Linked DNA regions of Homo sapiens. The protein of the gene in region 2 binds, or shares a complex with, the protein of the main gene of each other region. Each region holds a gene or a part of one and is shown on either strand. Other genes may lie near its edges. The genes, in order: POLD2, POLD1 and POLD4.

The links.
Region 1: POLD1 (region 2) and POLD2 share a complex: the UniProt entries of both Homo sapiens proteins name them as parts of the tetrameric DNA polymerase delta complex.
Region 3: POLD1 (region 2) and POLD4 share a complex: the UniProt entries of both Homo sapiens proteins name them as parts of the tetrameric DNA polymerase delta complex.

What each region holds. Positions count from the first base shown.
Region 1 is NC_000007.14:44,114,009-44,123,219, reverse strand, and holds the end of POLD2 (DNA polymerase delta subunit 2), read left to right. Parts: exon of another isoform or gene 1-40; coding exon of another isoform or gene 41-41; exon of another isoform or gene 42-333; intron 334-760; exon of another isoform or gene 761-1,110; coding exon of another isoform or gene 1,111-1,166; coding exon 1,167-1,386; intron 1,387-5,155; coding exon 5,156-5,277; intron 5,278-5,477; coding exon 5,478-5,601; intron 5,602-5,972; coding exon 5,973-6,087; intron 6,088-6,204; coding exon 6,205-6,403; intron 6,404-6,709; coding exon 6,710-6,790; intron 6,791-6,947; coding exon 6,948-7,105; intron 7,106-7,326; coding exon 7,327-7,454; intron 7,455-7,823; coding exon 7,824-7,925; intron 7,926-8,274; coding exon 8,275-8,435; 3' UTR 8,436-8,540; downstream 8,541-9,211. Other genes in the region: AEBP1 (adipocyte enhancer-binding protein 1 precursor), read right to left, coding at 8,959-9,211. UniProt on the Homo sapiens protein: Accessory component of both the DNA polymerase delta complex and the DNA polymerase zeta complex.
Region 2 is NC_000019.10:50,378,908-50,388,914, reverse strand, and holds the start of POLD1 (DNA polymerase delta catalytic subunit), read right to left. Parts: upstream 4,569-10,007; 5' UTR 4,525-4,568; intron 2,981-4,524; exon of another isoform or gene 2,058-2,980; intron 1,256-2,057; exon of another isoform or gene 1,111-1,255; intron 1-1,110. Other genes in the region: NR1H2 (oxysterols receptor LXR-beta), read right to left, coding at 6,313-6,459, 6,741-6,949, 9,036-9,135, 9,734-9,913. UniProt on the Homo sapiens protein: As the catalytic component of the trimeric (Pol-delta3 complex) and tetrameric DNA polymerase delta complexes (Pol-delta4 complex), plays a crucial role in high fidelity genome replication, including in lagging strand synthesis, and repair.
Region 3 is NC_000011.10:67,349,683-67,360,086, forward strand, and holds POLD4 (DNA polymerase delta subunit 4), read right to left. Parts: upstream 3,865-10,404; 5' UTR 3,718-3,864; coding exon 3,621-3,717; exon of another isoform or gene 3,612-3,620; intron 3,396-3,611; coding exon 3,306-3,395; intron 3,121-3,305; coding exon 3,009-3,120; intron 2,338-3,008; coding exon 2,313-2,337; coding exon of another isoform or gene 2,285-2,312; 3' UTR 1,090-2,284; downstream 1-1,089. UniProt on the Homo sapiens protein: As a component of the tetrameric DNA polymerase delta complex (Pol-delta4), plays a role in high fidelity genome replication and repair.

The DNA.
Region 1 (9,211 bases), on a different chromosome or scaffold from region 2:
GAGATAGATTGCAAGCCGCTAGGGAATTTTTTAACTTTCTAGTAGGTGTACGAAAAAAGTAAAACGAAACAAATCAATTGGAGTAAATCCATAAATATATTCAAACTATTATTTCAATTGTATGTGAAAAAATTATTGGGATATTCTTTGTACTATTCTTAGAAATCCATTGTGTGTCCAACCCAAACATCACAGTTGGACTCACCACATCTCCTGTACTTCGTAGCCCTAGGTGGCTAGTGGCATAAGACACAAAAATCTCAGCTCTCCTGGAGCTTATGGTCTAGTTGGAGCAGGCAGACAATACATTTAAAATATACAGTTTGTTAGAAGGTAAATGTTGTAAACAACAATAACAGTTGAAGTACTGGGGAGAGTTGCAGTTGTAAATCAGATGGGCAGGGCACAAGGTAACATTTGAGTAAAGATGTAAGAACTTGAAGGAGATGGGCAAGTGAGCTCTATAAGTATACGGGAGAGGGGCAAGCAAGAGTTCAGAGGCCCCTTGCTGTGGGGAGGGATCCAAGGTGGAGGAGTGGGAACCAGGAGGGGAGAGGACCAGTGGAGCAGATCTCATAGGCAGTTGTAAGGACTTGGGGCCTTATTCAATGAAATGAGGACACTTTGGAGAGTTTTGAACAGAGCAGTGACTGATTTATGTTTTGGTTTTGGTTTAGTTCTATTATTATTTAATAATAGGCTTATTATTTCACAGAAGTTTTATTTAATAAGGCAGACCTCTTGTCTGGAAATGAGACAGGTGCCGGAGAGCTGGATGGAGGCAGATCGGGAATTCCATTTGGGGCAAACTGAACTTGATTGAGACCCTGGTAGTTGTCCAGATGGAACAGGACACCTGAGTCTAGGGTTCGGGAAGAACTCCAGATGGGACAAACACTCCTAGCTTTCCTTTTCTCTTTTTGGATGACCGCTACAGGGTGAGACATCGGTATCCAGGCACGATAAATTTCCAAGTGGACACAATGTCTGGTGTCAACTACAGCTGTTCTCCTTCTTTTCCCAGTATCCTTTGGGTGCAGTGAGACACCAGGAGAGCTGCTGCTTTGGGGGATGGACAGGGGCAGCAGGAATGCCTTTGTGTTTTCGCAGTGAACCTCCTTGGCCTGGGCGAAGCTGTGTGGACCAAGCAAGTCAGGAGTGTGGCCATGTTTTCTGAGCAGGCTGCCCAGAGGGCCCACACTCTACTGTCCCCACCATCAGCCAACAATGCCACCTTTGCCCGGGTGCCAGTGGCAACCTACACCAACTCCTCACAACCCTTCCGGCTAGGAGAGCGCAGCTTTAGCCGGCAGTATGCCCACATTTATGCCACCCGCCTCATCCAAATGAGACCCTTCCTGGAGAACCGGGCCCAGCAGCACTGGGGTAAGTGAGAGTTTGGGAAGGTGCTTCCCCCACAGCATCCCTGAACTTAGAAGTGTTCTGCAAGAGAATGGGAACAGTTTATCTAATTGATCCCACTTCCTGTTACCTTGGGAAAATTAACCTCTTTTTCCCTCAGTTTCTTCTTAAGATAGTAACAAGGATTAAATTAAGTAATTTGTGGGTTTGGAGTTAGTTTTAGTTCAGAGGCTGGTTGGAGATGAGGACTTAGTTCTGGCGGTGATGGCGATTACTTCACTGGCAGAGGAAAATGGTTTTCCTATCTTCAGTGCAGATTATTCAGGTATTTGCCTGTGCTGTAGCCAGAGAGCCCCTCAGTGTGGCAAGCCTGGCGCCAGGCACCAGGAGCCAAGACTGGTGAGGATGCACTCTCTGGTCTCGAGGGGACCCCCTCTGTTCACTCATGTCTGTTTGCCTCTCCTCCTGGCCCCCATATTTGCTGGCCATGAATTTTCCTGTCCCTTGGGCCCTCTGTCTTTCCTAATAAAGTGGCCTGCCCAACACAACCCTTGTTCTTTGCCCCCATTTCTTCCCTGGTGATCTCTCCTGCAGTTGGATTACTCTTGGTGGTGAAGCAGGGACCCCCATCTCCCCCTTTGAGTTTATTTGAGTTTTAGGTGCTGCTGCATTCCCCCATTCCTACCACTTACATAAGAGTGGCTTTCCAGGTAATTTTCAAATCCATCTCCTATTATATTTTTAAACTGAGGATTTAGTAGGTGAGACCAGGTCTTACTCATTTTTACTGTCCTTGGCACCAGGCAAAATGGATCTCAGCCCTAGTTGCACATTGGAATCCCCTGGGGAGCTTTGAGAAGCCCATCTCATCCCATGCCAAGCCAAGATCAATTCTCGTTATAGGCAGGCAGGAGAACCCTGGGCCTAGAAATCTAGCTAGAACCTCAAATTCATTAGGGATATGTATTAGTCCATTTTCACATTGCTATAAAAAACTACCTGAGATAGGGTAATTTATAAAGAAAAGAGGTTTAATTGACTCACAGTTCCTCATGGCTGGGGAGGCCTCAGGAAACTTAACAATCATGGCAGAAGGTGAAGGGAAAGCAAGGCTCTTTTACATGATAGCAGGAGAGAGAGAGCAAGGGGAACTGCCAACCATTTTTAAACCATCAGATCGCATGATGGCTTGATCTCACTCACCATCACAAGAACAGCATGGGGGAAATCCACCCCCACAATCCAGTCACCTCCCACCAGGTCCCTCCGTCAACACCGTGTGGATTATAATTCCAGATGAGATGTGGGTGGGGACACAGAGCCAAATCATATCAGGATGTTTTCTGTTTTGTTTACCTGAGACAAAGTGCTGTTCACCTCTCCTCTCCCACATAATCAGGGGCTCCCTCCTGCGGCTCCGGTAGCTTTTCCTCACTTTCCTTTCAGCCCTCGGGACACCTTCCTTGGCTCCTTTCAGAGCTCAGTTACTACTTGGGCCCAATGTCAATGCCACCTTCTAGATTCTTTCCGGCAGCACCTCCTCTGGTCGCACATTTCTCTTCCAGTTATTGGAGCTGTCAAAAAAGCTCCCCAGTGATGGACGATAGCGATTTCACTGTGCTCACAGACTGGTCAGGAAACCAAACAGCTGCCACAGTGAATGTGTTGATAGCAGCGGGGCAGCAGTAGCACTCGCTCACAGGCCTGGTGGTTGGTGCTGGCCCCCACCCTGAATACCTACATGTGGCTTCTCCATGTGGCCTGTGCATCCTCACTGAAGCTCAGCCTGTCTCTCCAAATTGGTCTTTCCACTCACCTGTTCCCCAAACCTGCCCAGACCTTCCTGCTGTAGGCTTTTCCCTTCACTTGGCACACTCTTTCCCTTGTCTTCCCATGGCCCCATCTAAGCCCCACTGTCAGCTGAAGTGTTATATTCTTTGAGGGGCCACCTGAAGCCACCTTGCAATGAGGGCCTCCGTTTTCTACCTCAGCTCACCATTTGTTCACAGCACTTGTCACTGTGGCGAGTTACTTGTCTATGGCCTGTTGTCGTTCTCCTGCCTAGACCCAGTGGGCTGAGTGGGGGCAAGTGTTGGCTTTTATGTCCAGTTTTGATCTTGGTGCCAGCACATTGCCTGGGTGGAAGCATGTCCTACTATCGGTTACAGGGATGTCATTCTGCCCAGTGCTCAGGGGCATACACTTGGATCCCAGTTGTGTGCCCTTGGACACATTGCTTAACCTCTCTGTGCATCAGTTGGGTGATAATATCTACTCCTGGCACATTTTCAGCGTTGGCTGAGTTACATGTACAGTGCTTAGGCCACCTGGGGGAGAGTAAGAGTGGGATACGTGAGGATGTGGAGTCTGTTGCATTTCTGTCTGCTGCTGGCATCCTTCTTGTCTTGTTTTGAGTTGCTCGCCTCTGTCTGCTCCCTAGGGCGTAGATTTGAGGAATATTCCTGGTTCTTCCCAGGCAGCAGGGGCTCAGGCTGTGCTGGAGTCAGCTAGGCTAAGGGGCTGGTCTGGCATCCGCGTTGTCCTGTCACCTCCTTGGTGTTTTCTCCAGGCCTGGATCTGTGCTGTGTGGGCACCTGTATTCCTCCCTCCTGCCCTCACTGATTCTCCATACCTTTCTTCTCGAGAGTGCCAAGCCCCTCCCATGTGTTCTTGTTCATACCTAGGATCCCGGGAAGGGGCTGGGGAAGACGGTGCCCAGGTGCCCTGGGTAAACAAAGCCACCTGACTCCACGGGAATGGAATGGGTGGAGGGGATCTGAGGTCTGCATTTTGAGTATCTCTGGTCTCAGAGGATGAAGCATTTGGTGGGGGTTGGGGGTGGGGGGTAGGGTGGAAGAATCTAAAGTCTTAAAAGAAAATGGCAGTTATTTGTGGGACAGGGCTGTGTTGAGACTTGGCATGCTTCTTTTTAAGAGTCAGTGTTGTAATTTAGGTATAAGTGAAGCAGTACTTTGTATTAGTTTCCTGTAGGCGCTGTAACAAAGCACCACAAACTGGTTGACTTAAAACAACAGACATGGCCGGGCACGGTGGCTCACGACTGTAATCCCAGCACTTTGGGAGGCCGAGGCGGGCAGATCACAAGGTCAAGAGATTGAGACCATCCTGGCTAACACGGTGAAACCCTGTCTCTACTAAAAATACAAAAAAAAAAAAATTAGCTGGGCGTGGTGGCACACGCCTGTAGTCCCAGCTACTCGGGAGGCTGAGGCAGGAGAATGGCGTGAACCCGGGAGGCGGAGCTTGCAGTGAGCTGAGATCGCGCCACTGCACTCCAGCCTGGATGACAGCGAGACTCCGCCTCAAAACAAAAACAAAAACAGAAACAACAATAACAGAAAAACACAGACATTTACTCTCTGGCAGTTCTGGAGGCCAGAAGTTGAAATCCAGATGTCAGCAGGATTGGCTCCTTCTGAAGGCCCGAGGGGAGGGTCCTTCCTGGCCTCCTCCCTGGTGTTCCTGGGCTTGTGGCCGCATCACTCCGCTCTGCCCGTCTTCACACTCCCTCTTGTCTGTGTGTCTGTCTCTCTGTTCTCATGAGGACACTTGGCATCCAGGGCCCAACCACACCCAGAGTCCCTGGTCTCCTGTGGCTGACTCACTTTTTACTGTCACCGTGAAGTCCAGGGGGTCCTTGTACTTGATGTTCTCTCCTGGCAAGGCCAGGGCCCTGTGATTGGCCTCTCATGGAGTGCTGGGCAGGGCCTCCATGGCCTCTGTCGGGCGGGGGGGCTACTTCATCTCTGAGTCTGTACCCCTCGTGTCCCAGGCAGTGGAGTGGGAGTGAAGAAGCTGTGTGAACTGCAGCCTGAGGAGAAGTGCTGTGTGGTGGGCACTCTGTTCAAGGCCATGCCGCTGCAGCCCTCCATCCTGCGGGAGGTCAGCGAGGAGGTGAGGCAGGGTGCTACACAGTGGGGCCGCCAGGCAGACCTGGCCTCCCACTAGAACACCTCCCTGGAGGTGGGGTTGTGGGGAAGCAGGTTCAGAGACAATGGACTCCAGAGGGGTGGGGGCTGCGGTGCCAGCTCACTAACACCAGAGCTTTGGTGGGCTCTGGCCCCAAGATTATACCTCCTGTCTCTGCATTCCAGCACAACCTGCTCCCCCAGCCTCCTCGGAGTAAATACATACACCCAGATGACGAGCTGGTCTTGGAAGATGAACTGCAGCGTATCAAACTAAAAGGCACCATTGACGTGTCAAAGCTGGTTACGGGTAGGGAGCCCAATGAGAGGATGTGGGTGATGCAGGTGAAGAGCCCAGCGGTGGTGTGTTAGGGATGGTGTGAGTGGGGAGCCTGGGGGGAGTGGGGGGGTGTGGCCTGGGCACACGTGTGTTCTTGAGGAGGTAGGTGAGGCTCCAGGCGGTCGGAGGCCATCAGATTGGGTGAGACCTGGCTGGGAGATGGGTCTCCCCACCTCCATCCAAGGGCAGTGACTCCAGGAAGCAGGCATGCATCCTGGAGTCCTAGGTGAGAATTCACCAATGTGGTTGTGGAGAACTGGCTTGTTTTGCCCGTTGGGGTGACTGGAAGGAGTGGTAGCACCTGGGGCTCCCTGCTCAGGCCTGATGCCACTGCTCCCCAGGGACTGTCCTGGCTGTGTTTGGCTCCGTGAGAGACGACGGGAAGTTTCTGGTGGAGGACTATTGCTTTGCTGACCTTGCTCCCCAGAAGCCCGCACCCCCACTTGACACAGATAGGTGAGCAGCAGTTCTCGGGAGCTGGAACCAGCTCATGGTCAGTGGAATCTTTGAGTTGCACCTAGGAGGGGCTGCCTCCCTTCTCGGCACCCTGGAGGACCCCACCTTCTCCCGCAGGTTTGTGCTACTGGTGTCCGGCCTGGGCCTGGGTGGCGGTGGAGGCGAGAGCCTGCTGGGCACCCAGCTGCTGGTGGATGTGGTGACGGGGCAGCTTGGGGACGAAGGGGAGCAGTGCAGCGCCGCCCACGTCTCCCGGGTTATCCTCGCTGGCAACCTCCTCAGCCACAGCACCCAGAGCAGGGATTCTATCAATAAGGTATGGAGCCCACCTGGCTGCATTCAGCCCCAGCCCAGGAGCCTGCAAGCCTGTAAGACCCTCCTTCCCCAGGGCGAGTAGGGTACCCTGTGAGGTCTCGCAGGTCGGTGGGAAGCGCCCTGCAGTGACTCTGGGGCCTCCTGCAATGGGGCTCCTCATGCCCAGGCCCTCGCTGAGGATGGTGGGAGGCTTGAAGGGAGTGAGGGTCTATGGGACAACAACTGCATCTTCCAGCTGGTGGGGCTCTACTCTCCTCTGAGCCTGGGACTCGCCTGGGCCTGATGGCCTTCTGGGCTTCTATTCCAGGCCAAATACCTCACCAAGAAAACCCAGGCAGCCAGCGTGGAGGCTGTTAAGATGCTGGATGAGATCCTCCTGCAGCTGAGCGTGAGCGAGCTGGGGGCTGGAGGGGTGATGGGGATTGCAGTCTTCAAAGCTGCCACTGGGCAACAGAAGGCAGGCAGGAGGGCAGGGGGAGTGGCCGGAGTTGGTGTAGGGGGCTCCTTCGGGGCCCTGTGAGCTCTCCCTGCCCTGTGCCTTCCAGGCCTCAGTGCCCGTGGACGTGATGCCAGGCGAGTTTGATCCCACCAATTACACGCTCCCCCAGCAGCCCCTCCACCCCTGCATGTTCCCGCTGGCCACTGCCTACTCCACGCTCCAGCTGGTCACCAACCCCTACCAGGCCACCATTGATGGAGTCAGGTAGCTGGCACAGCCACACTTCAGTCTGACCCAGCCTTTTGCCTCAGGAGGCACAAAGAAGGGAGGGGAGGGAGGGCCCAGGAAGGTGGCAGGGCTGCAGAGGCCCACCTAGCATCTGTTCCTTCTCTCTGGGGCATCCCCACAAGAGCGCCAGATGAGCTCTGGGCTGACCACTATGGGTGGCACCCAAAGCCAAGAGTCAGCTGAGCTTTGCCTTGCAGATTTTTGGGGACATCAGGACAGAACGTGAGTGACATTTTCCGATACAGCAGCATGGAGGATCACTTGGAGATCCTGGAGTGGACCCTGCGGGTCCGTCACATCAGCCCCACAGCCCCTGACACTCTAGGTAACAGGCTCAGCCATACAGGGTGGGAGCAGAGGGCCAGGAGGCCTGGCAGGACCCTGAAGTGCACAGGGTCCCCCTGTGGGTTTGCACTTGCCAGCATTGCTGAGAACTGTCTGAGGAGAAGTTCAGAGGCTTGGCACCTGCTCTGGAAGCTACTCTGGAATCTTAATTCTAAGGCCAATGGCTGCCCACCCCAACGGGCAGCAACAGCAGGGCCAAGGTCTTGTGACAATGTCTGGAGGTGCCCCTATTGTCACACTGGGGGTCTCCTACTGGCCTGCAATGGGAGGAGGGGCTGCAGCCCCACATCCTGTGCAGAGTGCTAGTGCTGAGGCGGAACCCTCCTCAGAGCTGCCCCTTCTCCTCCAGGTTGTTACCCCTTCTACAAAACTGACCCGTTCATCTTCCCAGAGTGCCCGCATGTCTACTTTTGTGGCAACACCCCCAGCTTTGGCTCCAAAATCATCCGAGGTAATTTTTGTCTTCTGGGGGCCCAGGCTGATTTGCTGATTTGCTCTCACCTGGGGACAAGGTTCACAGAGAAGAAAACCTGCATTGTGGAGTCCCCCTGGCCCTTGTGGGATGGACAGCTGAGGTCTTCTGCACAGCTGCCATTTCACTGTGGGAGCCAAGCTGCCTCGCCAGCTGGGCAGGGACTGGAACGGCTCCCAGCCTGTGTGCCTCTCAAGGCTAATCTCTGGTCTCCTATTGTCACTGCCCCACTGTGTGCCAATGGGGACTCCTGTTTATTTCTGGCAGCTTCTCTTTGAGGCAGGACTTACTTGGAACCTACAGTGGGTCCTATGTGACTTCTTTGCAGGTCCTGAGGACCAGACAGTGCTGTTGGTGACTGTCCCTGACTTCAGTGCCACGCAGACCGCCTGCCTTGTGAACCTGCGCAGCCTGGCCTGCCAGCCCATCAGCTTCTCGGGCTTCGGGGCAGAGGACGATGACCTGGGAGGCCTGGGGCTGGGCCCCTGACTCAAAAAAGTGGTTTTGACCAGAGAGGCCCAGATGGAGGCTGTTCATTCCCTGCAGTGTCGGCATTGTAAATAAAGCCTGAGCACTTGCTGATGCGAGCCTTGAGCCCTGGGCACTCTGGCTATGGGACTCCTGCAGGGGTGCCCACAGTGACCATAGCCCATGCACCCACCAGCCGGTCTCCCTCCTCCCCATCCCTGACACCTCAGAATGTGAGCAGTCCGTGCCATGAGCTTGTTTTATTGGAGTGACCTTGGCTCCCTCCCTCTGCCCCTACTCCAACACTGCAGCAACCCCATCTCTTACGAGACTGGCAGGTGGAGCAGGAGCCTCTACACAGCCTCTGGCTCTTAGGTCCCAGTCATGTTTGCACCCCCTCAAAGGGGCAGGACCAGCCCTTCCTTTCAGTGTCCATACCAGGGGCCTTCCATGTGCTGATGGGTGATGTGACTGTGGTCAGCAGGCTTGGGAAGTGCTGCTGCTGTAGCTTGAGTTGGGCTGGGGTCTTGGTAGGACGCTGATCTCAGAAGTCCCCAAAGTTCACTGTGTAGGTCTCTACTGTTGTGAAGGGGAATGCCTGGCCAGTGGCTATCTCCTCCTCTTTCTCCTCCTCCTCCTCTTCCTCAAACTCGGGTTCCAGCTGGGTCTCAAACTCAGGCTCCAACTGGGTCTCAAACTCGGGCTCCACCTTGGTCCCAAACTCGGGCTCCACCTCGGTCCCAAACTCTGTCACCACCTCTGTGTAGGTCTCAGTCTCCGACTCCTCCCAGCCAGCG
Region 2 (10,007 bases):
GTTGCAGTGAGCCAAGGTCGCACCACTGTACTCCAGCCTGGGTGACAGAGCAAGACTCCGTCTCAAAAAAAAAAAAAAAAAAAAAAAAAGAGTTAACTGCTGGAGTTTTCAGAGGTGAAGTATCATGATGACCACAACTTTCAAATAGTTCAGCCAAAAAAAGGACAAAAGGTACAGGTATATGCATGTGCTTGGATAAAGCATAAAGCAAATGAGGTGTCATGCCAACAGCCAGTGAATCTAGGCAAAGGGCCATGGCTGTTCACTGTACTCAATTTGTACCTTCTCTGCAGGTTTGAAACTTTTCAAAATATTAAGGGGGAAATATATAAAATGAAAATAGTAACAAATTTACAAGGTGGGCAGAAGAGTATGTAGAAATCTTTTTGCTTTTAATGCAGGGAGTATGTAGACGTCTTTTTTATTGTAATGCAGGGAGTATGTAGACGTCTTTTTTATTGTAATGCAGGGCATATGTATAAATCTATTTGCTTTTAATGCATCATTCTATAAGGAGAGCTAAGAAACTGGTTTCCTGGGGGACAGGGTAGAAGACTTCATTTGCTAACTGCTTTATTGAGCTATAATTCACATACTATACAATTCACCCATTTAAAGTATATATAGTTCAATGGTATTTAGTATGTTCAGAGTTAGGCAACCATCACCACAGTCAATTTTAGAACTCTCTCATCACCCCAAAAAGCCTAAATCCTTTAGCTCTCTCCCTGCATTCAGCCCATCTGCCCCCACCCCTGGCAGCCACTCATCTAACTTTCTGTCTCCATGGATCTGCCTATTCTGGGCATTTCCTATAAATGGGATCTTGGAATATGCAGCCTCTTGTGTCTGGCTGCTTTCTCTGAATGTGTTCATCGCTCATGTGTGTGGCGGCCTTTCGTCAGTGCTGTGTCCCTTTTTTGCTGAGTACTTTTCCGCTGTATGGCTAGAACACGTCTGACGTATCCCTTCATCAGTGGATGGACATTAGGGTTGCTTCCACCTTTTGTGAGTGGTGCAGCCGTGAGCGTGTGCAGGGGGTTTTGTGTGAGGAAGACTTTGACTGCGTTTGTGCTCTTTGGGTGACAACCGCGTACATGTGTGACTTACAGGAAGAAGCAAGCGTCGTTAGCGGCTCTGGCTTCGGGTTGTGCAAGTAGCCAGAGAGGGACAGGGAGTGATGATCTGCGAGGAGAGACCCGGGTGGGACAGAGGAAGCGCAGGGGCTTGTGGGAGCCCAGAGTCAGTGCTGAAGCTGGAGGAGGAAGGAAGGAGCTGACTGGCTGCCCTTGGTCAGTTGGCTGTGGCTGCGGGGGTGCGGTGGGAGGGACGGTGTCACCAGGGGCAAAACCTGGGCTCTTGTTAGTGGAGGCACAGCAGCATTAGGAAGGAAAGGCCCCTGTGTGTCCCCTCTCATTGGCCCTGGCACAGGATGAGAGCTTGGCAAACACTGTCCTCTGCCCCTCTCACGACCCTTCGGTAGCAAGCACTTAACAGAGATTCAGCAACAAAATGACACCACGTGCTCGCTGCAGGCCAGACACCAGTTTTCTCGATGAGTGAGACACTCATTTCCTCAATGACCTCATCCAATCTTGCCCAATCTCACAGCTTTATTTTTATTTATATATTTTTTTGGGAAAGGATCTTGCTCACTGCAACCTCCGCCTCCTGGACTCAAGTGATTCTCCTGCCTCAGCCTCGCAGGTAGCTGGGATTACAGGCGCCCACCATGTCCAGCTAGTTGTGTATTTTTAGTAGAGTTTCACCATGTCTGCCAGACTGGTCTCAAACTCCTCACCTCAAGTGATCCGTCCACCTCGGCCTCCCAAAGTGCTGGGATTACAGGCGCCCACCACCACGCCCGGCTAATTTTTTGTATTTTTAGTAGAGACGGGGTTTCACCGTGTTAGCCAGGATGGTCTTGGTCTCCTGACCTCATGATCTGCCCGCCTCGGCCTCCCAAAGTGCTGGGATTACAGGCCTTAGCCACCGCGCCCGGCCTAGCTTTTGTATTTTTTGTAGAGACAGGGTCTTGCTATGTTGCCCAGGCTCACCTGCATGCTTTCGGCCTTGTCCTTCCCCTAGGCCTCTGTGACTGCTGTCTCTGGACTGCCTGGGTGTGTGTCTTCCTCCCTTACCAGCCAGGGACCTCTGGATGGCAGAGCAAGGACTGACTCTCCTCTGGGACCTTAGCATCACCCAGCACAGGGTGGGCCCCCAGGAGGCCTTAGGCAGTGTTCGCTGCATGAAACTCCACTGCATCCAGAGACTCAGCTCAGGCTTAGCTCCTCCAAGCTGACCAGCTGCCCTTCAGGGTTCCCACAACGCCTTGTGCCACTTTCGTTATTGCACAATGCAGAGCTGGGATCCTTTCAGCCTGTGAGCTCCTTGAGAAAAGGAGTCAGCATCTTGCCCAAGTTGGGGTCTCCAGCATCACTCTGCACAGTGTCCGGTTACTTCAAGACATGAGTTTAGGCCGGGTGTGGTGGCTCACACCTGTAATCCCAGCACTTTGGGAGGCCGAGGTGGGAGGATTACTTGAGGTCAGGGATTCGAGACCAGTCTGGGCAACATGACAAAACCCTGTCTCTACTAAAAATACAAAAATTAGCTGGGCGTGGTGGCACACACCTGTAATCCCAGCTACTCGGAAGCCTGAGGCATGAGAATCGCTTGAACCCGGGAGGTGGAGGTTAGTGAGCCGAGATCGCGCCACTGCACTCCAGCCTGGGCGACAGAGCAAGACCCTGTCTCAAAAACCAAAAAAAAAAAGACATGTGAGTTGAAACTCCCTGTGAATATCAACCACTCTGGTGAGTCTTCCCTGAGCGCACAGGTTCTTCTCTTGGCTCCCAAAGACTATCACTGCTCCGCCATAGCTCAGCGCACTCTGGACTGAAATCTCCTGTCCTTCCCCAACCAAACTGAATGATCATTGGCTCCCCAGTGCTCAGCAGAGGGCCTGTCCAAACAGCAGCTGTCAGAAACACATAAGAGAGGGAAGAGCATTTCAGGGGGAGGGAAGGAACCTCTCTAGGGGGAAGAGAGACCTGTGGGGGGGAAGTGCAGGAAGGAGGAGAAGCGGCCGTGCGTGGTGGCTCACGCCTGTAATCCCAGCACTTTGGGAGGCCGAGGCAAGTGGATCACCTGAGGTCAGGAGTTCGAGACCAGCCTGGCCAACACGGCGAAACCCCATCTCTACTAAAAATACAAAAAATGAGCTGGGCATGGCAGTGGGTGCCGTAATCCCAGCTACTCAGGAGGCTGAGGCACGAGACTCGCCTGAACTCGGGAGGCGGAGGTTGCAATGAGCTGAGTTTGCACCACTGCATTCCAGCCTGGGTGACAGAGCAAGACTCTGTCTCAAAAAAAAAAAAAAAAAAAAGAGAAGACAGTGGCAACAAGTTCCTTCAGTGGAAGGGCTGAGGCGAGGCACTGACATCGCCCTGCCCACTCCTGGCTCCGCTCTAAACCCTGCCCACTCACTCCCCCACTAATCTTTGCCTTCAGAGCGGCAACCCCAACCTGCTTCTCCCTTAGCCTTCCCCATCCAGCCTGCTGCTCAAACCACAAACCCAGGAGTCATCCTGGACTCTTCCCCTTGCTCCTACGCCCAGTCCATCAGCCAGTCCCCCTGTCTCCGCCCGCAAAGGTAACCGGAGCCTGATTCTCTGCCTGCAGGACGCTCTCCCTCCTAACAGATCTCCCTCCTTCCATTCTTATTCCTGCTACAATCCAATTTCCACTCAGTGGTGAGTTTTTCAAAACATGGGGCGAATCGTGTTGTTTCCACGCTCAAACCCTCCCACGGCTCCCCGCTGAACCTAGAATAAAGGAGAAATTCCATACCAAGTTTTACAAGGCCCTATAGGATCTAGTTCCCCATCATGACTCCGACCTCATCTGTGTTTCTCTCGTCCCCTCGGCTCCTGCTACAAATACGCCAAGCTCCTTCCACCTCAGGGCTTTGCACTTGAGGGTCCCAGAGCGGTCGATTCTGGACCACTCCAGCTAAAGCAACAGGCTCTTCGCTCATTATCACGTTACCCTGCGTTAGTTTCCTTCTGAGAGCATCTCACAGCCCCAGAGCACTGCTTTACTGATCTATTAAAACTCATCACTTGTCTACCGTCTGTCTTCCCGAGACAGGGACTTCTCTGACTTGTTCCTGCTTCCAGAAAAGTGCCTGGCACAGAGTACTCAAACACCCAGCGAATCCAGGATGACACCAAGCCCGCACGTGCACCACCCAGTCCCCCCAGCTCCTCCCGGGCCACGTCCCGCCCCACGGTGCCCGGCGCATGCGCCCCCTGCCCGCCGAGGAATTCCACCCCCACCCCGGCCTTTTCCTGCTCGTCCCCGCGCCCTCGCCCAGGAAACCCCTGGCCCCTGCCCTCTCCTGCGCGCCCCCGGGCCAAAGGGTGCCCTCGCAACCGTCTCTCAGATCTATGTGCCTGGCTGCTCAAGCCCCGTTCCCTACCAGGCCCACTGCCCCGAACTCCCTTTTTCCCCTCTACTCACCCGCTTCAAACAGCGTTTCCCGCCACAGCCTACGCCGCCGTGACCCCTGACTCCCGCGCGCGCAAGCCCAGAGCCGCGGCGCTCAGAGACGGGCCACGCCCCCGCCTGCCCAAGTGCGGGCAAGGCCACGCCCCGCTTGTTCGACTGCAGGGCAGGCCCCGCCCCCTCTCTCAGCTTCCGAAGTGGCCTCGCCCCCTTGCTGAAAAATTCCCTTAACTCCGCCTCCCCATGACCTGTCTGCCCGAAGCCACGCCCCTCCGCGCGGCTACCTTCACGACCTCGTGCGGTCTGGGCGCGCCGCGGTTCTGTTCTCTCTCCTCCCACCCTCGGGTGTTGCGCGCGCATCCTCCGCGTCCCCCCGCCCGCCTCTCGCCCGGGGCCGTGTAGGGAGCGCTGCCCCGTCGCTGCCCAGCAGCCAGCTGGTGACCTGACGCCCAAGATCCCCGCAGAGGCTGGCCGATAAGCGGTAGAGTCCTGGCTTGATCTGTTCTCCTTCATCCTAGCTTCAGTTTCCCTATACGTAAATTAGACTCAACAACGCATGATAGGGACACTTGTGGGGCGCCCGGTACACTACTCTTAGGATAAGGTGATCATTGGTAACTACTCTCACTTCCGCTGTTCCCCGCCCCAAATAAATACACCTTTAAGTTGCATCCCTCCATCCAACCCCCCTTTCGCCCTCGATTGGAATTGCTCATTCAGCTCCTTCAGGGCTGGCACAGGGGCAGGAAGGATTGGAGGAACTTCGTCGCTTCGCTCCGAACTCCTGGCGTCTCTCCTTTCAAACTTTGCACGTGCTGTTCCCTCAACTTGGAGGCCCAGCCCCCAGGCTCTTGTTTTAGGTCCCAGCGATTGCCTCTGTTGTGATACCTTCCCTGATTTCCTCTAGCCCCACCACAGTGCCACGCTCATTAAAGTCCCTATCCCCCGAGTCTTGGTAGGAGGATGGTTATCTTGTTCACAGATGTTTCCAGTGCCTAGAATTGTGCCTAACTGTAGTTAATGCTCTGGAAACATTTATTGGGTGAATGTCTCCATCTCTAGAATGGCCAACCCAGTGCCTGGCCCACAGGAGGCCTCAGCAAACACTTGTTGTTCGGACAGAAGTCCAGGTCCCCTCATTCACTTAAATCCTGTTTATCCTTCAAGGGTGAGTTCTGATTCACCTTGTCCAGGGAGGTGACCCTGAGGCTGAGGCCTCTGTCCTGAACTTTCACAGCAGGCGACACACCACCCAACACTGGGACCCTATGTGCCACCCTTTTCCCAACAGCCTGGGGACACCCAGTCCCACCTGCTCAATCAGGTTCGGGCACCCAGTGTCACTGAGGTCCCTAGAAGCCCGCGCCCTCTCCATCTTGCACTCCAGCTCCGGGCTGGATTGTATTCATATTTTATTTTCCTGTTTCTGTTTTTAGTTTTTATTAAATAAAAGCAGAGGAAGAGGAAGGCCCTGGTCTCCCGGGCTAGGGGGGAGAGCCATGGGTCCTCCCCTCCCTCTGTTCAAGGTGCACTGCGTGCTGGGCTTGAGGTGTAAGCTGGGGAGGGAGGGCAGCCGGGAAGGGTCAGTGGTCGGGACCTGCAACCCTTTCACCCCTTCTGGAAGACTCGCTGGGCAGGGAGGGAGCCTCCTGGACCTGGACTGGGGCTTATCCCAAGGGATGAGAGCCGATAGGTCTACAGGCTCGGCCCAGGGCCCCTTCCACCCTAGGAAGAGGAAGGGGTGCCGGCGTCTATCTGCTGGAGGGTGGTCAGGCAAGGCTGTGGGGCTGGGTGGCCAGCCCCTCACTCGTGGACGTCCCAGATCTCCGACAGCAGAGGCGGCAGCTTCTTGTCCTGGAGCCGCAAGGCGAAGACCTGCTCCGAGTGCACAGAGCTCAGCGTGCGCAGGCTCACCAGCTTCATGAGCATGCGCGGGAAGCGCAGCTGGTCCTGAGGGAGGAGGCAGGTGGGCGCTGGCTGAGCCCCTGCCCTGCCAGGCTTTGGGAGGCCCACCCCAACAGAAAGGAGGGCCCCTCCCCGACCAGGCGTGGGAGCCAGCGTGGGGCCCGCCTCTGTGCTTGGACTAGACCTGGCTCCCAGTCGAGCAGGGTGGGGCCTGAGGAAAGACTCTGCGGAGGGGAGGGCAGTGTGGCTGGCAGAACCCAGCCTGAACGGACCACGTGGGCCGCGGGACGTAGTTGGCTCTGCGCAGAGGCTCTGCGGGGCCCTACCTGCGGCCTCTTGATGCGCGTGTAGGACAGCAGCGCCTCCACGTAGGGCTGCTGCAACGCCTCCACGCGGCCCGGCTCCTGCACGTTGGGCCGGTCGGCCGAGAAGATGTTGATGGCGATGAGCAGGGCGTACTCAGCGTCGTCCAGGCCCAGCCGCCGCATGGCCCGCGAGAACTCGAAGATGGGGTTGATGAACTCCACCTGCAGGCCTGCGGGGCGGGAGGCAGCCCGTGACTCCCTCAGCCCGAAACCGTGCCCCACATCCTGGACCCTGGCGCTGCCCACAGTCTCTGGGGCTGGGAACACAGCAGTAATTACAGCGTTCTTGTCATTTCTGTCCACCTGTGCCCCGTGCCCATGAGTGCTGGCATGTAGTAGGTGTGCCACACATGCTGCCCAGTGAAGGAATGAATGAGGGTGCATGTTTCTTCAGTATTTTCTACTATCCTATCACCACCCTCCCTTCCCACCTGGGCGGTGGCTGCAGCTTCCCGAGTCCCTATTCTTGTCCCCTTCACAAAGGCAAAGGGAAGCTTTTAAAACCTAGGTCACATCGTGCTGGTCCCAGCGCTGGCTTCCACTGCTCAAGGTAAAGCCCAAACTCATTCCCAAAACTGACTTGTTCATTCAGTCATCAAATGTCACTGAGTACCTGCCACGTGCCAGGCTCCAGCACTTACATTTGAGAGCCTAGGGGACCGGTCATAGACAAACACATTAGGAAGAGGCCCAGCCTGTCAGAGGGCTGTGAGTTCAATGGAACCAGGCAGTGCAGAGAAGTGTGAAGGGCCCTGCTGAGCCATGGTTCTATTTTACACAAGGCGGGCAGGGAAGGCTGCGCTCTGGGTGACGCTGGAGCAGTGACCAATCCGAAGGAGATGAGGGATTGTGAGGGTGACCAACGTCTGCTGTTCCCATGACTTGGGACGGGGGCTACCCAGGCCATGAGACTTTCAGTGTTAAAACTGGGAAGGTCCTGGGCAAACTAGGACCAGTTGGTCCCCCTAGTTCTGGGCAGAGGAAACTCCAAGTACACAGGCCCTTGGCTGCAGCATGCTGGATGGGTGCCAGTAAGAGGCCAGAGTGGCTGGAACAGGGGGAGAGGGTGAGAGCTGAGGGCAGAGAGTGAGCGAGGCCAGGTCCTAAAGGGCTTTGTGGGCCACAGAGAGGACTCTAGCTCTTCTCCCAGTGAGACGGGAGCCGCGGAGGGTTCTGAGCGGAGGAGGGAAGTGGGCAGCCTTAAGTGCTGACAGGACCCTTCTGCCTGTGCTGTGAGCAGCCCCATCAGGCAGGGGTGGAGGCAGGCGGCCCCTCAAGGGGACCCTGGCAGTGTTCCAGGGTGGTGGCAGAGGAGCGGCTGGGAAGGGGTAGGGTGGGATTCCCGACCTCCTCTCCACCCCATCTCCTTGTGCTCCAGCTGCCTGGGCCTCCCTGTAGTTCCTCCAAACCACCAGCTCTCCCCAACCTCAGGGCCTCTGCAATCGCCAATCTCCTCTGCCAGAAACGCTTCCCTGCAGCCCTGCCCTGCTAAGCTCATACTAAAAGGGTTACTGGGACCGTCTCGGGTGGTGAAAGGGCCGGAGTAAGAGGAAGGGGAGAGGGTGGGGTTTGGACAGATGTCGGGAAATACAGAGAGGTCCCCCAGAGATTGTGGGACAATGAGGGAGCGAGGCCCTGGTGCATGCTCTGCAGCACTAGCAATGCTCCTCCCACCCTTTTCCTAGGCAGTGCCTCTCACTGCCCAGGCCTTCTTCCAGAAGCCCACCCACGCAGGTTAGCGCTCTCAGAGGGCAGGAAGCAGTGCTCCCCTAGACAGTAAAGAAGGCTGCCCGCTTCACAATGGACCGAGCTCCAGCCCGCCTCCCTTGGGTGAGACCACGTTTTGGCGGGGGCGGGGAATGCTTTTCCTAATGCCCACCAAGATGCCTGATGTGGTAACAGGGCTCCTCCCATCTCAACTTCCACTGCAACCCAATGTACAGAGTCGGCACTCAATACATGCTTTTTTTAAAAAATAGAGACACGGTCTTCTCTGTCACCAGGCTGGAATGCCGTCGCACAATCACGGCTCACTATAGCCTCAAGCAATCTGCCCTCCTCAGCCTCGAGTGGCTGGGACTATTGGCGTGCACCACCACACGTGGCACATGCACTCTTACCTCACTCTCACCTTGGCTCAACCCTCACCCCAACTTTGGAGATAAAGAAACAGAGACTCCAACAGGGATGAGTTGGCCCCAGGTCTTCCAGCCAGCAGGGGCGCCAAGCCTCCCCGAAGCCTCCCCTGGGCCCTACCTGCACGGTGGAAGTCGTCCTTGCTGTAGGTGAAGTCCTTCAAGAAGGTGATACACTCTGTCTCGTGGTTGTAGCGCCTGGCTGTCTCTAGCAGCATGATCTAAGGGCGGCAGCGGGAGGGGGAGCTTGAGCCCTGTGACCCTTCAGCTGCTAGTCCCTCCCCTCCTGGCCCAAATGGGGGTCTAATCTCACCAGGATTATCCCTTGTCCCCTTCCCCCCTGTTCTCTCAGCCACACCAGCGTGCAGCCATCACGTGAGACAGCCCGAGCTCTTTCTCCACTTCAGGCTTCCGCACATGCTGCATCCCCATCTCCTTAGGATACTCTTTCCCCAGGTGAGCACAAGGTTTGGGGCACGGGGTTTGATCTGCTTTGTTCTTTGCCCCATATGCCAACACTTGGAATAGAGCCTGGCATACAGCACGTGCTCAATACTTATATGTTATCCCTACTTTGATTCAAATGCTAACTCCTCTGAAAAGCCTTTTTGGCAACTTTTCTCTGCAATAGCGCCTCTAGCCTGATCCTCAATTTTCTCAGCCTCAGACCCTTTTTCCTTTCTCTCCTTGGCTCATAGAAGACTCTATTCGCCGTGGAATGTCATCCTACAACGGCAAGCACTGGTCTTCCTTAACTCTGCTCCCAGCATCTGTCCTGGAGCTATCTCTGGGGTTCCTTGTGGGCAGATGGACCATTACCTCGATAGTGGATGCCTTCAGGAGGGCGATCTGGTCCTCCCGGCCCAGCTGCAGGAAACCAGGCACTTGCTTAGCGAAGTCCACGATCTCCTGGACTGAGATGATGGCCAGCTCCGTGAAGTGGGCAAAGCGTTGCTGGCGGGCATCTCGGGACTGGGGGTCTGCGCCCAGGGGCCAGGGCTGGGACACAGGAGACCAGGGTCACTCCCAGGTCTTTGTGAGCCTAAGTCTGGGTGGCCACCTTGAGGCCAAGCCTGCACCCTGGGGGATCCTC
Region 3 (10,404 bases), on a different chromosome or scaffold from region 2:
CCTCCTCAGTGCCTTTCCTGGAGCAGGCTGGAAACACTCCTTCCTCAGGAAGCTTCTCCTTGTTGCTCCTTCTGCCTGGAACCCTCAGATGCAGACCTTGCTCCCTTCCTTCCTTCAAGTCTCTGCTCAAATGCCACCTTAGCAGAGGGCCTTCCCTGACCAGTCTCTCTAACATAGCGCCCCTGGCATCCTTGGACCCTTTCTGATCCCAACTCTGATTTTGCTTACTACTGACTGCTACCTGTCATAATTAACTTACGTGTTTGTTTTTGCCCATCTCCTGACCATTAGTAATACCCCAAGGGGACCTTTGGTGCCTGGCACATAGTGAGTGCTTAGCAGCTGGGCAGGAGGTATGGCATAGTCTGGAAGAGGTTAATGCAAGTGGCCCCTGGTCACTGCACTGCCTCTTGCCTGCTGTGTGCTTTTGGGCAACTTTACTTAACCTTTCTTAGTTTCAGTTCCCCCTCAGTAAAACCTACCTGGAAGGTTTTTTAGGAGGATTCGAGGTAATACATTTAAAGTACCTGAGACATGATCAGTGCTCAGACGGGGGCTACACAGGCCACTTAGCTGCCCTCTAGGCCTGTTTCCAAGAACTTACTAGTGCTGCCTCCATCTACCCCCAGGATAGAGGGCTGCCACAGTAGATGAAGGTAACACTATAGAAGCGGTTACTGACTCTATTCTCCATGTCATACCCTGACCCTGGGTCCCCTGGGCATTGTTTCTGGCTCCAGCCAGTTCTCCTCCATCCCCCAGCACCATCAGTTTCTTTTTTCTTTCTTTTTTTTTTTTTTTTTTTTGAGATGGAGTCTTGCTCAGTCGCCCAGGCTGGAGTGCAGTGGCGCGATCTCGGCTCACTGCAAGCTCCGCCTCCCGGGTTCACGCCATTCTCCTGCCTCAGCCTCCCAAGTAGCTGGGACTACAGGTGCCCGCCACCAGGCCTGGCTAAGTTTTTTTGTATTTTTAGTAGAGACGGGGTTTCACTATGTTAGCCAGGATGGTCTCGATCTCCTGACCTCCTGATCCACCTCCCTCGGCCTCCCAAAGTGCTGGGATTACGGGCGTGAGCCACTGCGCCCAGCCTTTATTTTGTATTTTTTTATTTTTTGAGACGGGGTCTCTCTCTGTCACCCAGGCTGGAGTGCAGTGATGCGGTCTCAGCTCACTGCCAGCTCTGCCTCCCGGGTTCACGCCATTCTCCTGCCTCAGCCTCCTGAGTAGCTGGGACTACACCTGGCTAATTTTTTGTATTTTTAGTAGAGATGGGGTTTCACCATGTTAGCCAGGATGGTCTCGATCTCTTGACCTCGTGATCCGCCCTCCTTGGCCTCCCAAAGTGCTGGGATTACAGGTGTGAGCCACCGCGCCCAGCCATCAGTTTCTTACCAAAGCCCCTCAGATGATGGTCATGTCTGAGCAGGTCCTGCAAGTTGAGACCCTCGCCAGCCCTGCTTTGGATCAAGGTGGCCCCCGATGTGGGAAGCCAGAGGTGCTTGCTGGGAATGTATAGATATGTTTGGACTTCATGAGCTATGGACCCCAGGGGTCCTTCTCTGGCAAAGCACCCATGTTTGTGAGGTGGGCACCGCTTAGCAAGGCAGGTGGCTGGCTAGTCAGGTAGGTTTTCCCTGGCTGCTCCAGAAGGTGAGTCATGAGTAGTTTCCCTGTGGGCCACCAGGGGGCACCAGAGGTCGCTCAGCTCTTCCGAGGACTTGATCCGTCTCAAGATGACTGTCTCCTCCCTCTTCGGCCTAGGACTTTCTTGAAGGAAAAGAGCTGTAGTGGTGCCTCTCTCATCTCCTAACTTGCTAGGGACTGCCAGTCAAAGCAGGGCCACAGTAAAGGACTGAAGGTCAGGATTCCAGGCTCAATATTCTTTATTGATAAGCATTAGTGAACCCCTTGCCCTGGGAGCTCAGCCAGTCCTGCTCTCAGATTCCTGGCCTTAGGTGGGAGAGCATCTTTTCCTCATGGATCAACTGTCCATGTCTGACTGTGCCTAACTTGCCAGATCATGGGTCAGGGAGACAGGCAGCAGGTATTGGAAGGTGATGGCCAGGTCCTTTTCCCCAGTGACCACTCTCCATCTAGAAGCACTCTGCTTCAGCTGCGCAGGCTCTTCCGGGGACTCTGGGAGCCTGCTGGTTAGATGGAGGAGTTGAGCCTCTGACACCTCCAGGTTCTGCCTGCCAAGGGTTCCTCCGCAGCCGGGCTGAGCTGAGCAGGAGCAATGGGCTCTCGCTTCTGTCCTGAGGTTCTTGGGTGGTGAGCAAGAGAGCTAAGGGCAGGAGGTCTTACGTGGTGCCTCATAGGGGATAGAGATGCCAGAGACTGTGGAAGATGGGGTGGGAGGGAGGGATACCCCAGAGAGAGAGAGAGAGAAACAGAGAATCAGTTGTTGAGTCCCTGGATCTGATTTCACCAGCTTATTCTTGGCCATGCCCATAGTCCTTGGGAAACCCCTCAGTTCTAAATAGATAGTTCCTTGGGTCCTGGGTGTACCTTTGCCCCCCACTAGCTTGTAGAGGTAAGAATTATTGGCCGGGTGTGGTGGCTCACGCCTGTAATCCCAGCACTTTGGGAGGCTGAGGTGGGTGGGATCACGAGGTCAGGAGATCAAGACCATCCTGGCTAACACGGTGAAACCCTGTCTCTACTAAAAATAGAAAAAATTAGCCGGGCGTGTTGGCGGGCGCCTGTAGTCCCAGCTACTTGGGAGGCTGAGACAGGAGAATGGCGTGAACCCGAGAGGCGGAGTTTGCAGTGAGCCGAGATCGCGCCACTGCACTCCAGCCTGGGCAACAGAGCAAGACTCTGTCTCAAAAAAAAAGAATTATTATAGTGGCGTGTCCTCCTGAGCCAGGCACCTCATAGAATCTTCTTGCCTGTTCAGCAAGGCCTTCCAACCCTCCATCCATTTCTCCCTCAGGTCAGGACAGCAGGGTGACAGTGCCTGGAGAAGGCCCTGGCTCCCCTGAAAGCCCTCCCGGCCTGTCTCTGACCTGCACTGGAAGCGGGGGTCTCCGGGGTGGGTCTTCAGCACCTGCCACACCTCTGGGGGAGGCTCCAAGCCCATCTGCTTGGCCCGACACCAGCGCTGCAGCCGTGTGATCCCTGCCAGGGTGGGAAGAAGACTCTGGAGACTTGTGGGGGGTGGGGTAGAGTCTGAGCTGGAGAATGTGTGTGTTGGGGGGAGACAGTTCCTGAGGGTCAGAGTCACGCAAGCGCTTGGGTGACTTCAGAGACGTGTGGGTGACTGGCTGGGAGAGGCGCCTCCGTGGGGCTGGGTGGGTTCTCACCGGTGCAGGGCCCGTACTGCCAGGCCAGGTCAAACTGCCTCAGCAGCTCCAGCTCCGCTTCCTCCTCGTCGCGGGGCTGGGGCTCCTCCCCTGCAATGACAGCTGCTCTTCAGTACGAGGTTGGCTTCAGTCTCCTGCCCCTCACCTCCCAGCCTTCCTCACCACCGCTTTGCCTCTGCCACCCCGCAGCTAGACCTGGTGTCGGGAGGGGAGGACAGGCCACCTTTCCCTTTCCATCGGCCCCTCCGCCCCTCTAGGGGCCTCCTCTAGGCCCCTCCGTGTCCACTCCTCCTGCCTCCCTCACACCTCAGAGACCTAGCTCGGGTGCCAGCTCCCCCTTGCTGTGCCCAGCGGGCCCCTCCCTCCTCTTCACAACCGGGTAGGAATCAGTGATGAGCCGCTTCCGGCCCATGGCGGCCACCCAGGCAGGCAGAGAAGGAGGCAACTGCGGGGAAGAGGAGAGACCGGCCAGTGGGCGCGAGAAAGACAGCTGCTGAGAGAGACAGACGGGGCCAGGCCAGCGGCGGGCAGACAAGATGACCCAGACAAACCGAGAGAGGAAGTCGCCGGGGTCCAGGGAGGGACGCCTCCCCCACCCCCAAAAGCACGCAAACAGGAAAGACTTCAGCCAATGGCAGGCCGCCTATGCGGGGCGGGGCCCTGGCGCTAGCCAATGGTAGGCAGTGTAGGGTGAGGGGCGGGGCGGTGCCTCAGCTGTGGGCCGCGGGAGGAGGGGCAGGCTGGGGCGGGGGACCTGTCGGGATGCCCCGACTTCACCACCTTCCCCGGCCCCCATTGGTCTGCTGTGGGTCCCGAGAGACTTCAGGAGAGTTATCTTCAGCCTCTCACTTCCCGTTTTCCCTTCCTAGGCAAATGTTCTTTTCAGCTTCGCTAATCCCCGTGGCCAGTTTGTAACTCCCTAGAGTCCAGCTGGAGCCTTCACTCGGTCCTTTGGCCCGCCCCGCCTTGTGGGGGCAGGTCTGGAGGTCTGAAGAGAGTTTGGGCTAATCCAGGCCCCTTCCCGGCTCCCACCCAACCCCCACTGGCCCCAGGAGACCTGGCTGGAGAAGCCCATGGGTTCTGAAACCTCCTTTCTCACAGTCTGTGCCCAAAGATGCTGCCCACTCTTAGTCCGAGTAAGTGTTTGCCGTTTTGACTCTCCTGGGGTCCCAAGTCGTGTCCGGCCCGCCCCACCAGTCAGGAAGATTCCATACTGAGTAGGAAGGCAGAGCAAGGGTCTGGTCCCCCCACCACAATGTGTTTGGATCCCTAGTTCTTCACTGGCAAAATCTGCCCTGTCTCTCACAATAATGTGAGTCTGAGCAGAAAATATTAATAATAAACCTAACACTCATTGCACGTACCATGTGCCAAGTACTGTTCTAAGCACTTTCCCACATGTTAATTAAAATAGATGTCAAAAAGTTTTTGAAAGTAGGAAGTATAGCTAAATGATTATCACTGCTGATAGTCACAGGCATTGTAGGGCCCCAATCAAACCACAGTCTCTCTTGCACCCCAGGAGCTCACTGTCACAAGGCAGACAGATGCACAGTTGTCAGTGAGAGGCTATAATTCCTACCAGAAGAGGGAAAGGGTGGGTCAGAGATTGGTTAGGACCACAGGGATGATTAGCATTGGAAGGCCTCCTGGAGGAGGTGGACTGCTGTAAACAATGTCTCTCAATTCTCCACCCATGACCTTTGTCCCTTGGGCTCCTGTCATCACTGACTCACCCATACTGCTGCCTCCCCCTCACCAACTTCCTGGCAGGAGGCAAAAGTACTGGCCAGTGGGAGTCTGGGAACCAGCACAGGGACCAGCCCAGCTCTAATCACCCTCCAGAGATCCCATCCGGTTCTTCCTTCCAGGGATACTGGGAGGGTGGGGCACAGACTCCTGGGCTGCTGCCTGCTCAGAGGCCTCTGCCTCCTCCTTTCCCTGCTCTGGGGTCTGGGTGTTCTGCACTGGAAGAGGGCTAAGCCACTGGTACACGTGGGCACAAGGGAGGAAGCTGCTCTGGAAAGGAGACCACCAGAGGGGAGGCAGAGGAGCAGGCCATGTCTTCAGGGTCCACGTCCTGCCTGGCTCTCCCCATCGGCGTCCTAGAGGAGGGAGCTTGTGGGGGCACTGCATGGAGCTGGAGGGCCCTTTCTGCTGTATTGTTTGGGCTGGGCCTAGTCTAATCCCCCCATCTGCCTTGCGGACTAAGTGGGGCCCACATTCAGGGAGACAGTGTCCCTGCGGAGTTAGTGATGGAAGCAGGGAGGCCCTGTCTACCAGGGCTGGGAAGGGCCTAGGTGCTGAGTCCAGTCAGGTGCTGAGCATGCTAGGTAGGGATGGCGTCTAGGCTCTGGGGGATTGACTACCCCTCCCCAGAGGGTCTTGGCAAGGGTTCCTGGGCTGTTTCCAGAGGTGTGTGGCACCCACCTCCTGAGTCCACCAAGCCCTGAGGGAGTAGGGAGCCATGGGTGGGGCAGACCCCTCCTCATTCCCAGTCCCTCCCACCCCTGAAAGCTGATAGCCGTGGGGCCCTGCCACCGCCCAGGGAGCGTGAAATGGGGTGTGCCGCTGGGCAGCCACAGTAGCTCCTACCACCGCCTGGGCCTATTGCCTTTTCTCCTTGGGCAGCCTCTGGCATCCTGAGCTGCTCTGTAGATGTTGGCTGGGCTGTCCCTGCCAGCTTCCCCAGCTTTGCCTGGCACAGGCCCCAACCCAGGCTGGAAGATGTCTCCCTCAGGCTTCAGCTACCCCCACACCCAAGAAAAAGATTCAGAGTGGTCAGCTCAAGTGCAGGCACCCTAGGCCTGGCTTTCTGCCTTGGAGTTGAGGGAACTCTCTGCAGGCAGCATTGCTGCTCTCTCTTAGATGGCAGTAGGGTGGAGCCCCTAGGAAAGAGTTGGCACCCAGGGATTTTGGAACCATCCCTGTCCAACTGGCATGCCCTGACTCAGCACCTGAATCCCTAAGGTGCGCTGAGGACTAGGCTGGACCTTGACCTTCCTGTCCTCAGGTCTTTTCCTTCTTTGCTGTCCAACCCCATCCACCTTCTGTACCTTCTTGCCTAGAACCCCTTCACCTACTCAGGCAGCATCCTGGCCTCATTCCCTAAACTGCTGTCTTGGAGCCTGTTCAGGCTTCAGACTGGATGGCCAGGCCAGAGTTCTGGGTTGGGTGCTGAGTTCTCTCTCCCTGGGGGAATGTCCTGAGACCCTTGTGTCAGCCCCGACACCCAGAGGCTGGTGATGAGACTAGTAGGAGTGACCTTTGCACCTCAGCCTGGTAACAATACCCAAGACCCTTGCTTCAGGGCCAAGCCCAGAGTCCTGGGGGTCCAGGAGAGAAAAGAACTGAAACAGGAACCCGGCACCTTCCCAGGGGCTGAGGCCCACCGCTGACTGCACTCAAGGGAAGGATTAGGTCTGGCTTAGCTCAGACAATGTGGTAGAATGGGGGCCTCAGCACTGCACCTGCATTCCCTTCCCCCACCTCACCATGAGGTTTGTGGGGAGAGCCAGGTAGAGCTGGGAAGCTGGAGGCAGGTGGAGAGAGGGGAGCAGCTGCCTGGGACCCAGTGGGCTGTGGGGTGGATCCAGCTCTTCTTCCCTCTCGCCAGTACCCCCCTTCCTCAGGCCCTTGGGCCCTGCCACCCACCCTGAGCTGAAAGTCAGTCCCACTCAGGAGATTCTGGGCAGCCAGAATACCCCTGGCCCCGGCCCCCAACATACTCACACACCGTGGGCCCCATTCCTCACCCTGTGGGCCAGAATTCTTTCAGGCAGTCCTTCCTAGTCCCTCACTGCCTTCCCAGACACTCCCTCTTCCCCTGGTCCAGGTTCTCTGGCCTAATGTGCTTCCATCGCAGCAGCTTGAGTGGAAAGGATGGGGTCTCTGGGTTTTTCTACCACTGCATCTTCTGTCCTGCTCCTACCACCCTCCACACCTTCTTCTCTAGTCACCTCCTCTTTCACCTTGGCCATCCAGGCTCTGGAGCAGTTCCGGGAAGACTTGAAAAGGGGCCTTCTGGCCATTACTCACCTTGGCCACCAGGTGTCAGACTTTGCCCAGCTGGGTGGGAGGAAGGTTCTAGTTAACCATTTCCACCCCATCAGTCTGGCCTCAGAGAGAGATCTGGGCAAGTTGGGGAGGAGCCTAGAGGTGACCACTGAACTGGCAAGGCTGAGGGACCCTGAAGGTTGAGACTGGGAAAAGGACTGGAACTCTGACTCTACAGCTTTCCCCCAGATCCCCCTCACTGCCACTGCCCCCACACCACCCCACTGACAAGGGCTTTGTCCCCTGCTGGGAAGTTCAGGAACGAGGCTGAGTCAGGGAGCTTGAGAATTGAAGGAACAAAGGCAGGGACAGTTGTAGCTCCACAGCAGAAGGGGAAGCTGAGAGGGAGCTGCCCATCGGAGTGCCCAGCCAGGACTGAGTCACTAGCCCTTGCCCTCTAGGTTAAGGGGAACAGAGGGCCTCCCTTTGCCCTTCCCCATTTAGGGTGGCTGTGGCAAGTGAGAGTGTGTGTGTGCATGTGTGTGTAAACTCAGTGCTTGAATGAGCCTCTCATATCATGAGGCGGCCTGTAAGTCTTGGACGGTAGGTCAGTCTTTGCAAAAGTGGAAAACTGGCAAGATCTGAGTATTGTGCCATCTCCCATCAGAGCCTCCTCTAGCCCCACTTCCCCCAGAGGTTGCCCCTGCCTCAAGTGATAGTTCTCCATTTTATGCTCATTCTTTCAAACATAGGTGTGTTTCTAAGCACTCAAGATGATGACAAGATTTCTAATCCTTACATTCTATCTGGAGATGATGGAGAGGAGGGTCTTCTCTTGCCCACTCTCCCGATCCTTGTGGGGACATGAGGAATACTAGAGATAACACACCCTCCACCCTTTGACATTGCAATGCCTTAGAGTCTCATGTTAGCCTCTGGGCCTCTGACTCTGAAGCCATTCTTAGGAGGTAGAACCTCGATAACCAACAAAACTCATTGGATCTCCTGAAGCAGCTCTGGATGGAAAACCAATGACTCACTCACAGAAAACGCCAGTGCCCTGTGATCTACCAGGTGCTCCCTGTGCTGTGGTGCTGGCATTTTCACAAGATGCCTGTGGGACACAGTGCCAAAACACAAACGAGCAGCTCACATCCCCTGTCACCATCATTAGGGGCTATTTGAGAGAGTTCAAGAACTCACACTCTGAAGTGCCCTCTCTGATGGTGCTCTCATCCCCCTCTCCCTCCACCACGCCACCGCCACTGTGGGAGCGTTCTGCGTCCTCAGCATGCAGGAACCCCAGCGCTCCCCATTCAGGATTCTTCTCCCAGCCTATTCCCCTCCTCTGTTTCCCTCCACTGACCACTCTTCCCTTACTGCCTGGCTCTGGCTCCCAGCCAATTTCCAGTAGTTTCCAGCAGCCTAGAATCCCCCTTGATTCTCTGCCATTCTTGCCTTGCCAATCCTCAGCCTTGGAAAATGCCCTCTTCTCCAGTCTGTCCCTCCCTCTGAAATGCTAAGGAATGTCACTGCCCATGGTGACAGGTCCACGGCAAAGGTGCCTGCTGATATCACCGGGTTCTATTTGGCTGCCCAGACACCCTTTGGCTCTCCTGTGGTTGTCTCCTTATTCCATTCTCTAAACCTCCCCATTTTTCTCCACCCGCCCCCTACTCACTCAGCAATAACATGTTTAGATCACTTCTATTTAACAACAACAACAACAAAACAAACAAAAGCCTTCTGTGATCTTGCTAACCTTTCTAGATGGTGTTTTTTTGTTTGTGTGTTTTTTGAGACAGTCTCGCTCTTGTCGCCCAGGCTGGAGTGCAGTGGTGGGATCTTGGCTCACTGCAGCCTCCACCTCCCAGGTTCAAGCGATTCTCCTGCCTTAGCCTCCTGAGTAGCTGGGATTATAGGCATGCACCACCAGGCCTGGCTAATTTTTATAGTTTTAGTAGAGATGGCCATGTTGGCCAGGCTGGTCTCAAACTCCTGACCTTAAGTGATCCGCCCTCCTTGGCCTCCCAAAGTGCTGGGATTACAGGTGCAAGCTGCTGCGCCTGGTCTCTTAACCAGCAAACTCTGAGGGACTTGATTTACCCCTTCTACTTCTGCCCACCATGGCCTTCATTAATCTCACAACTCGGTGGCTGCCTCTCACCTGCTGTTTCACAAAGGTTGCCTGAGACTTCCTGATTGCCAAAGCCACTGGATTTTGCTCAGCATTCTTCTTGAGCTCCTCTGGGGCATCTGAGACTGTTGATCAGCTCCTTCCTTCACCTAGGCTGGAGTGCAGTGGTGTGATCACAGTTTACTGCAGCCTCGACCTCCCAGGCTCAAGCGATCCTCCTGCCTCAGCCTTCCTTGTAGCTGGGACCACAGGTGCGCCACCACACCTGGCTAATTTTGTTTTGTTTTGTTTTTTGTTTGTTTGGGTTTTTTTGAGATGGAGTCTCGCTCTGTCACCAGGCTGGAGTGCAGTGGTGCCATCTCGGCTCACTGCAATCTCCGCCTCCTGGGTTCAAGCGATTCTCTTGCCTCACCTCCAGAGTAGCTGGGACTACAGGCGTGCGCCACCACATACAACTGATTTTTGTAGTTTTAGTAGAGACAGGGTTTCACCATGTTGGTCAGGATGGTCTCTATCTCCTGACCTCATGATCCGCCCGCCTCAGCCTCCCAAAGTGCTGGGATTACAGGCGTGAGCCACCGCGCCTGGCCAATTTTTGTGTTTTTTGTAGATACAGGGTTTTGCCATTTTGACCAGGCTGGTCTTGAACTCCTGGGCTCAAGTGAGCCTCCTGCCTCAGCTTCCCAAAGTGCTGGGATTATAGGTGTGCGCCACTGTACCTGGCCTTTTCTGTCAATTTCCAAAACACTATCGTCTTGACACACACTTTTTAAATTTTTCTCTAATATAGCAACCCTATTAACTGATGTCTTGACACTCTTTAAATCAGTTTAAGTCAAATTGTCAAGGTTTGGCTGGGTACAGTGTCTCACGCCTATAATCCCAGCACTTTGGGAGGCCGAGGCAGGGGGATCACTTGAGATCAGGAGTTCAAGACCAGCCTGGACAACATGGTGAAACCCCATC